Linked DNA regions of Homo sapiens: region 2 is linked to region 1. Evidence: fine-mapped expression QTL. A gene starts in region 1. The other region holds a variant in brackets. All regions are shown on one strand. Distances are between the middles of the regions.

Region 1 (4,388 bases):
ATAAACTCTGGACACACCATCTTTAAGAACTGTAACACTCACCGCAAGGGTCAATAGCTTCATTCTTGAAGTCAGCGAGACCAAGAACGCACCAAAAGGAACCAATTCCGGACACACTAGGAGTGGGGTGCTGGTGGGGCAGGGCACGGGTAGAAGTGAGGTGTGGGTAGGATCAGGGTATGCGTAATATTGAGGTGCTGTTGGAGTGGGCCGTGGGTAGCATGGGGTGCTGGCAGGGCTGGGCGTGGGTAGGAGCGAGGTTTGGGTAGTGGCTGGTGCTGCAGTGGTGAGCCATGGATAGGAGCGGGGTGCGAGTAGGGGCGGGGCTCAGGTGGAGTAGGGTGACTGCTGGGCCAGGCATGTGTAGGATGGGGTGCTGGCAGGGCAGGGCACTGAAAGGAGCAGAGTGTGGGTAAGATTGGGGTTCTAGTGGGGCAAGCATGGGTAGGATAGGGTGCTGCAGGGCGGATAGCAGCCGGGTGCTGCTGGGACAAGCACAGGTAGGAGAAAGGTCCAGGTAGGAGCTAGGTGCTGTGAGGTCGAAAGCAGGTAGTGTGTCCGGAATTGGTTCTTTTTGGTGGGTTCTTGGTCTCGCAGACTTCAAGAATGAAGCCGCAGACCCTCGCGGTTAGTGTTACTGTTCTTAAAGATGGTGTGTCTGGAGTTTGTTCCGTCAGATGTTCAGATGTGTCCAGAGTCTTTTCCTTCTGGTGGGTTCGTGATCTTGCTGACTTCACAGGAGTAAAGCTGCAGACCTTCGCAGTGAGTGTTAACAGCTCTATCAAGGTGGGGCGTCCAGAGTTGTTTGTTCCTCCTGGTGGGTTCATGGTCTGGCTGACTTCAGAATAGAAGCCGCAGACCTTCGCAGTGAGTGTTACAGTTCTTCAAGGTGGTGCGGACCCAAAAAGTGAGCAGCAGCAAGATTCACTGTGAAGAGTGAAAGAACAAAGCCTCTGCAGCATCGAGGGGTACCCAAGCAGGTTGCCACTGCTGGCTCGCATGGCCAGCTTTTCCCTTATTTGGCCCTGCCCATGTCCTGCTGATTGGTCCATTTTACAGAGAGCTGATTGGTGCGTTTTTACAGAGTGCTGATTGGTGCATTTACAAACCTTTAGCTAGACACAGAGCACTGATTGGTGCATTTTTACAGAGTGCTGATTGGTGCACTTACAAACCTTTAGCTAGACACAGAGTGCTGATTGGTGCGTTTTTACAGTCTGCTGATTGGTGCATTTACAAACATTTGGCTAGAGGGAAAAGTTCTCCAAGTCCCCACCCAACCCAGAAGCCCAGCCGGGCTTCACCTCTCAGTAGGAGCGGGGTGCAGGTAGGATCAGGGTGCTGGAGGGGCATGGGAGGGTAGGACAGAGTGCGGTAGTGAGAGGTGACAGAGTGCTGGCAGCCCTCACTCGCTCTCGGTGCCTCCTCGGCCTCGGCGCCCATTCTGGCTGTGCTTGAGCAGCCCGTCAGCCCAGCGCTGCACCGTGGGAGCCCTTCTCTGGGCTGGCCGAGGCAGGAGCCGGCTCCCTCAGCTTGCGGGGAGGTGTGGAGGGAGAGGCAGGGGCAGGAACTGGGGCTGCGCATGGCACTTGTGATCTAGCTAGAGTTCCGGGTGGGCGTGGGCTTGGCGGGTGGGCGTGGGCTTGGTGGGCCCCACACTCAGAGCTGGCTGGCCGGCCCCACCAGCCCCAGACAGTGAGGGGCTTAGCACCCGGGCCAGCAGCTGTGGAGGGTGCTCTGGCTCCCCGAGCAGTGCCGGCCCACCGGTGCTGCGCTCAATTTCTCACTGGGCCTTAGCTGCCTCCCCACGGGGCAGGGCTCGGGACCTGCAGCCCACCATGCCTGAGCCTCCCCCCAGCCGCCGTGGGTTTCTGAGCAGCCTGAGCCTGCCCAAGGGGTGCCGCCCCCTGCTCCACAGCACACAGTCCTATCGATGCTTAAGGGCTGAGGAGTGCTGGTGCGTGGTGTGGGTGTGCAGTGTGGGACTGGCGGGCAACTCTGCCCACGGCCCCAGCGCAGGATCCACTAGGCAAAGCCAGCTGGGCTCCTGAGTCTGGTGGGGACTTGGAGAACTTTTATGTCTAGCTACAGGATTATAACACCAATCAGCACTCTGTGTCTAGCTAAAGGTTTGTAAACGCACCAATCAGTGCTCTGTGTCTAATCTAGTGGGGACTTGGAGAACTTTTGTGTCTAGCTAAAGGATTGTAAATGCACCAATCAGCACTCTGTGTCTAGCTCAAGATTCCTAAATGCACCAATCAGCACCCTGTCAAAACGGACCAATCAGCTCTCTGTAAAATGGGCCAATCAGCAGGATGTGGGTGGGGTCAGATAAGGGAATAAAAGCGGGCTGCGGAGGCAACCGTGGTAAGCTGTGCTTGCATCATGTTTGGAAACTGTCGTACTGCGCGAAGCTTTGCAGCTTCCCTCCTTAAAGGCAGTGAGATGGCAAACCCACTGGGAGGAATGAGAAACTCCAGGCGCACCACCTTAAGAGCTCGTGACACTCACTACAAAGGTCTGCAGCCACTCCTGAAGCAAGCGAGACCACAAACCCACCAGCAGAAAGAAACTGAACACGTCCAAACATCTGAAGGAACTAGCTCCAGACACACCATCTTTAAAAACTGTCACACTCACTGTGAAGGTCTGCGGCTTTATTCTTTTAGTCAGTGAGACCAATTCCAGACACAAGACCATCTCATCTCAAGAGACCAGGACGTCCGGGCACCCCTAGAATGTAGCTGCTGGCAGAGCCTGAAGTCTATCCAGCTCATGCTCTTCCCTGATATCCTTGACAGATTGTGGGATGGTTCAGCCTCTGCAAGGACATGGCCAATGATGGGGGGCTGGTTTTGGGGGCAGCACTCTAGGCAAGGGAAGAAATAAAGTGTCTGGGAACTGGCGTGGTGAAGGGGCACTTTGTGGAGAAGATGTGTTCACATTTGGATGTGTCGAGGGTGGAATGATATGAGGAAAGTCAAAGGGTGCCCACCCCCAGAGCCTAGGTGTGGGCACAGCACTGCACCACGCCTTAGGGGAGATTGGACTCTGGGCAGAGATCCCAAGAGAAGCAGGAGTTGGAGTCTTGGGGGCCAGTGTGATAGGGAACTAACTTTACTTTAAAGCCAATTTGTCAGTAAGAAAAAACGAGGTGCACCTTGTAGGAGAAAAAGTCACAAGCTTGGTGTGCTTGAAGTCACAAGCCTTGCTGTGCTTGGTGAGAGGGATCCCGAGTGTACTTGAGGCACTCTCCTGTTTAAAAGGGGAACGGTGGTTTTCTTTTCTCAGTGTAGGTTAGTGTAAAAAATCTGCTTTGTAATTGCATAAGGTCTCAGCACAAACAAAATCACAGAAAATGTGAAATGTATTATAACAGTCAACTTGCTTAGAATGTAGTTGAACCTGCATGCAGTATTGAGACACCAGACAACTGTTTTCAGTCTCCACATTTCTTTCATTTCCTTTATGAAAGTTACATTAAGAAAAAAAATAACTCCCTTGAGTATTCTGATATTTTCGGTGAGTGAAACAGTAATCTCAGCAAAGTTCAATCTTGGTATCAGACAGAATTTCAGGTTGTTTCATCTAATTGCCACTTAATACCAAAGACATGATGTTTATTAGCATGTATTTCTAATGAGAAACTATTATAGTCGTCCTCAATTGTCTGAAATATGAAGCGGAAAAAGAAAATTATGAGCCCCAGATACCAGACCAGTTGCTGATCAGATAGAATATCGTGGTTCCAGCATATTATGAAATAAAAATTCAAAGACTGAATACCATGCAAAAGGTCAATATTCGGCAGCATCTGAGAAGTCATACATCTAGATAGACCTAAACTATAAGTGCAGAAGTGCTACAGTAAACTATATGGGCTTTCTACTAAGTACTGGCTAATTTTAAAACATACTGAAATTTATGTACATTAGTCTTTGTTATAAGAATTGAGAATCCGCATTGTATTATAAAGTTGATCTACAACAGTCACTTTATTATAAAATATTTTCGGCCTGGCGCGTTGGCTCACACCTGTAATCCCAGCACTTTGTGAGGCCGAGGCAGGCAGATCACCTGAGGTTGGGAGTTCAAGACCAGCCTGACCAACATGGAGAAAACCCCATCTCTACTAAAAATACAAAATTAGCCGGGCGTGGAGGCAGGTGCCTGTAATCCCAGCTACTCCGGAGGCTGAGGCAAGAGAATCGCTTGAACCTGGGAGGCGGAGGTTGCAGTGAGCCAAGATCTCACCATTGCACTCCAGCCTGGGCAACAAGAGTGAAACTCCATCTCAAAAAAAAAAAAAAAAAAAAATTCACCAGAAGGAAAGTGCTTACCTATTTGAACAACTCTGTACGGGTCTATACAGTATTCCAAGGCTC
Region 2 (4,388 bases), 25 kb before region 1:
TTCCTGGAATGCAGTGGAAAGAGAACAGATTAGTTTTTCCTCCTTCAGAACACAACCACTAGAAACATCCTACCTCAGATGAGATATTCCCTAATTATTTTCAAAAGACAGTGAAAAACGATGGATGTAAATGTTTGCTACAAAATAAATACATGGTAGAAACAGAAGCATCTGGGTCACAGCTATATTAGAGCTACCTGTGTTCCCCTGTCACTGAGATTAAAACAAAAATGTCCAATACAATCATTCACAGCATGGGAGAGGGGAAGTTGAAGGGTTAGGAAACGCCAGTCATAAAAGGATTTCAGAATTTCAGTCCATAAGGAAGTGGTTTTGTGCATTGTCTGTTCTTGTGTGCAAGGTGAAGTCTGGAGAACAGAAACGTGCAGTAACAAGGGCTCCTTTGTCCATATCACCTCTCTAGATATCAAGTTTCAGACATGTTGCATTTTAATTGAAAGGTTGATATAATTTTTTGAAAAAGAAAACTTGTGGTGTTTGAAGTGACAAAGACTGCTGTGACAAAAAAGCAGGGAAAGGGAATTTTTTTTAAAAAAGCAAACAACAACAACAAAAACCCACAAAAAAGCAAACAGCAAACAAACAAAAAACAGGGGAAGAAGTCGAAACACCCTGGGTTGTGACTACTTCCAGGAAGGGGCTACAAGAGGCAGTTGGAAATTCTATTTGCTTTGCAACTGTGAGTTTTCCAGCCTGCTCCCTTTCTAAAGTATATTACTCTGCTTTTGGTTCATGAAGTTATCCATTTCTGTTTTCTGGAACAGCTATGTATTTTCTTTATCTATCATCTATCTATCTATTTACCATCTATCTTTTCTACCTTTCGCTATCAAGAGCTTGGGTCAAGCAGGATAGAATTCCAGTGTATGTTCACTCTACCATTTAAAACAAGAGCTCTTGTAGGCATTCTCCATCACATCATAAACCTGAGCTTTCTAAAACAGGGTGTGGCAAACTACCATGCATGGGCCAGGTCTGACACAGTCTGCGTTTGTAAGTAAAGTTGTAATGGGACACAGCCACATACATGTGTTATACAATGTCTCTGGCTACTTTCATGGTATAATGGAAGAGCTGAGTCATTGAGAGAGGGACAACATGGCTTGGAAAACTTGAAATATTTAACATTTAGCCCTTTGCAGAAAATATTTGCTGACTCTTGTTTTAGAAGATCTCTCTTTAGAATGCTACCTATTGCCTTCTGGATAGAATCACAACTCTTTACCACAATCAACACACAGCCCTGCTTTTATTATTTCCACTCCTCCTCCTTATTTTCCTTCTGACAATGCCGATGGATTGTCAGCTTCCCAGATGTGCAAGAATCTCTCCTCCCTTCCCGACATTCTCATGCTCTCCCTCTGCCTCTCAAGAACTTCCTGTCCCATCTCTCATGACAAATCTCTTCTTCATTCTTTAAGATGCAGCCCCTTTGCTCCTTCCTTAAGGATGTCTGTCTGGCTTTATTTTGGGTGACATGCTCCTTCTGCATCTCCCAGAGCCAGCCTCTGTGTGTCAGCTACAGCATTTCTTTGCATCTCTGTGTCATATATCATCAAATCTGCCTAAGCTTGAGTGAGTCACTGCATGACAACTTCAGACTCCACCAGCATTGTCTGCACTAACAACGAGGCTTAGAGATTTGTCCAGTATGCTCGGGGTTGTGGGGTGGTAGCAGTAACCAGCTGGTGAGCATCATCTCTTACATCAGAATGAAATCTGTAGATCTCTGCCATTCATAAGTATTTGGAGCTTAAAATTAGCATAAAGATTTTCCTTAAGAACAAATGGCTTGAGTAGGCTTTTGGAACGTAGGATATTTCTGCTCGTTCATTTCAGCGTTCAGTATTCCCACATGAATCTAAACACGGCTCTGCTCTTAGTAACTGTG[C/T]GACCCTGGGAAAGTCACTCAATCTCCCTCAGCTAAATTTTGTTGTGTGAGTAATGAGAAGAGAGTTGTGGTTTGTATTTAGTGAGTAATAACAAGCAAAAGGCATTTAGCTTTCTGGAACCTGGTATGTAGTAGATCCTCATGAAATACTAGCTCTGTTGATAAAACTAGACTGAAAGAAGCTTTCAAAGTCAACAACAGTATCATGTAGTGACGGACGTAGATGAGAAGCTGCTGCTGCAGCTTGCAGCTCCTGGAGGCCAGTTTTGTCCATGACTTAGCAGGAATGCACTACCTTTCCATGAGGAGACACTGCCCAAAGAAACCAAGGCCATTCTTTGAGGACAAATATGTTTTAATAGCTTTTATATTATGTAATAGTGTAATACAAATACTAATTTATTAATCATAATGTGAAATTATTTACATTGTTATGTTAAGACTTTTGTACAGAAATTTACACCTAGATATTCTGAAGTTGGTGGTCTGTGAGTGGCATCGAGTGATGACTGACACATTCTGACCTGGGGTAGAACAACACGTGTCCCTGCAGTTTGCTGAATTTCAGGGCATCACCACCTTTTTTCAAGAGTGTGTTTTCCTATCCTCTAGAGTTTTGCCCACTTAAGCAATGGCTTTGCTGTAATAAAGAATTACACTATTTATCAAAATATTACTTTGGAGAATACTGGTTCACATAGTTCACTTTCAAGTTTTCTTAAACTATCAGGCCCATAGCTAATGCCAGTGGCTCCAAGGATGAGAAGGTAAAAAGGTCTTTTTTTTTTTTTTTTTTTTTTTTGGCCAAGACAAAAAAACTCCACATTTCAAACTTTACTGTCTCATGCTAGTCCCTGGAAAATTAGAAGTGAACACACTCCCCTCCCAGCCCAATCACAGCTAATGAATAACCAAGATCTCCTGCAGGTGCCTTTGCCTTGGGTTTGTGAGCCTGGAGTTGCTGGTTGGCACTGGGCAGCAGGCAGCAGAGCTGGTCCCATTTCTCCATGCTTTTCCAACTCTGTAGGGGACACAGGCACATTGAACAAACTAGGTCCTGGCCTGGCACTGGCTGGGAAGCTATTTGATGTCAGGCTCAATGTGGACTTCTGAGTTGAAAAGAGAGTATGGGTCACCCAGCCCCACTTACTCATTTTACCAAGAATGAAAATGGGGATCTATTTCAGACATGAGATTACACATTGTAAGACTGTGCAAGCTTGCCACACTTGTATCCGCTCAGCACACACTTTCTGAGTGCCGAGTGTCTCCAGCAGGAGAGGGGCTCTAGTTCCCGGGATCCCACCCTCCACAGAGGACAGCAGCACCTTGAGGGACAGATGTGCAAAGGGCAAGGTGGGGGCCCTTCTGCTGGAGAGGCAGCTGGGGAGGTCCTTAGAGGAAGTGACACCTGAGCTCTTCTCTGAAGGGTGAAGCTGAATTACTTGAAGCTTAGGGTGAAGGGGTGTCCAGGGAAGTGGAGCCTGTGAGCCGAAAGCAAAATGACTTGTCCAGAGAAGTGTAACAAGTTCCATATTGTTTCAGTGCCAAATCTGCACAGGAGTCACCAAACGAAAGAGCAGGATCCTGGAGCCAGGGCATGGGATTTCACCCGCTGGCAATGGGACTGTTCACTGGGAATTCTGGGGGGCAAAACCTGAAAATGTTTCCTCTTAGCTCCAATTCTCTGTCTCTCTGTCTCTCTGTCTCTTTCTGTCCTTCTCTCTTTCCCTTATCTTTAATTTTTTATTATCCTAAGAAAACACAGATGTCTCAGATGTGGGGATTAGCAGCCTGCCTCTTTCTGGATGACTCAGGGGAGCACTTTGGCCTCTGTGAGCTTATTTACAATAATTCACAAATCTTGCCAAAAAGAAAAGTCATGGTAGCAGAGGTTAGAAAACCTCCTAGTATTTCTTCTGATGCTTTGAATTTATGATTAATATGTTTAATCTTCATCTTCTGAAAAGTCACCAGTTGCACAGTGAGGACCATAAAGGTAGTCTGTTTCTGTGGTTTGTGGCTTCAACAGTCAGCGGTTTTGCAGCAATAGCATTGCATGTGGGTTTTAGGCTGATGATGCTCAACAGTGGACAATCCTCTTCACCTGCCTGGGCCCCACTGCCTGCCCTTCCATACAGTGCAGGGTCACAGCTGAGCTCTCTGAGACACCTCGCAGGATCTCGGCTTCTGAACTATCAAGTGTCTTCCAGGTGAAGGCTTGGTCTCATAGCCTTTGTGGCTTCCTCCAGGTAACACTTGGTCTTCTGACCTAACCCTGGTATGTGTGTGACACACATGTGAATGTGCTCCCTGTGGCAGCGCTGAGGAAGGACTCAGTCATCACAGATGCTGAAAGGCAAATGCAGTGTGCTTTTTTCCAACATCTCCAGTCTTGCATTATTTTTACCCATCAGCCCATTTGAAAAAGAAAAAAAAAAAAGTCCCCTGTTAGAATTAAATCCCCTCTGGAGAT

Evidence for each region. PIP is the estimated chance that this variant, and not a neighbour inherited with it, causes the effect. A credible set is the group of variants that fine-mapping cannot tell apart.
Region 2: its variant is the best candidate, but not a certain one, in a credible set for the expression of LIRIL2R in nucleus accumbens (GTEx, PIP 0.86).

The regions. Positions count from the first base shown.
Region 1 is chr6:178,023-182,410 of GRCh38, forward strand. LIRIL2R (lincRNA regulator of IL2RA) reads left to right here and starts at 2,373. Exons shown (of 2, transcript XR_926349.3): 1 at 2,373-4,388. It overlaps LINC03066 (long intergenic non-protein coding RNA 3066), which reads right to left. Exons shown (of 8, transcript NR_126020.1): 7 at 4,344-4,388; 8 at 3,444-3,673.
Region 2 is chr6:152,889-157,276 of GRCh38, forward strand. No RefSeq gene overlaps it. Among named protein-coding and RNA genes, the nearest start is that of LIRIL2R, 25 kb to the right of the region's middle. RefSeq lists enhancers at 3,255-3,344, 3,385-3,474. The variant C/T (reference allele first, on the strand shown) is at 1,913.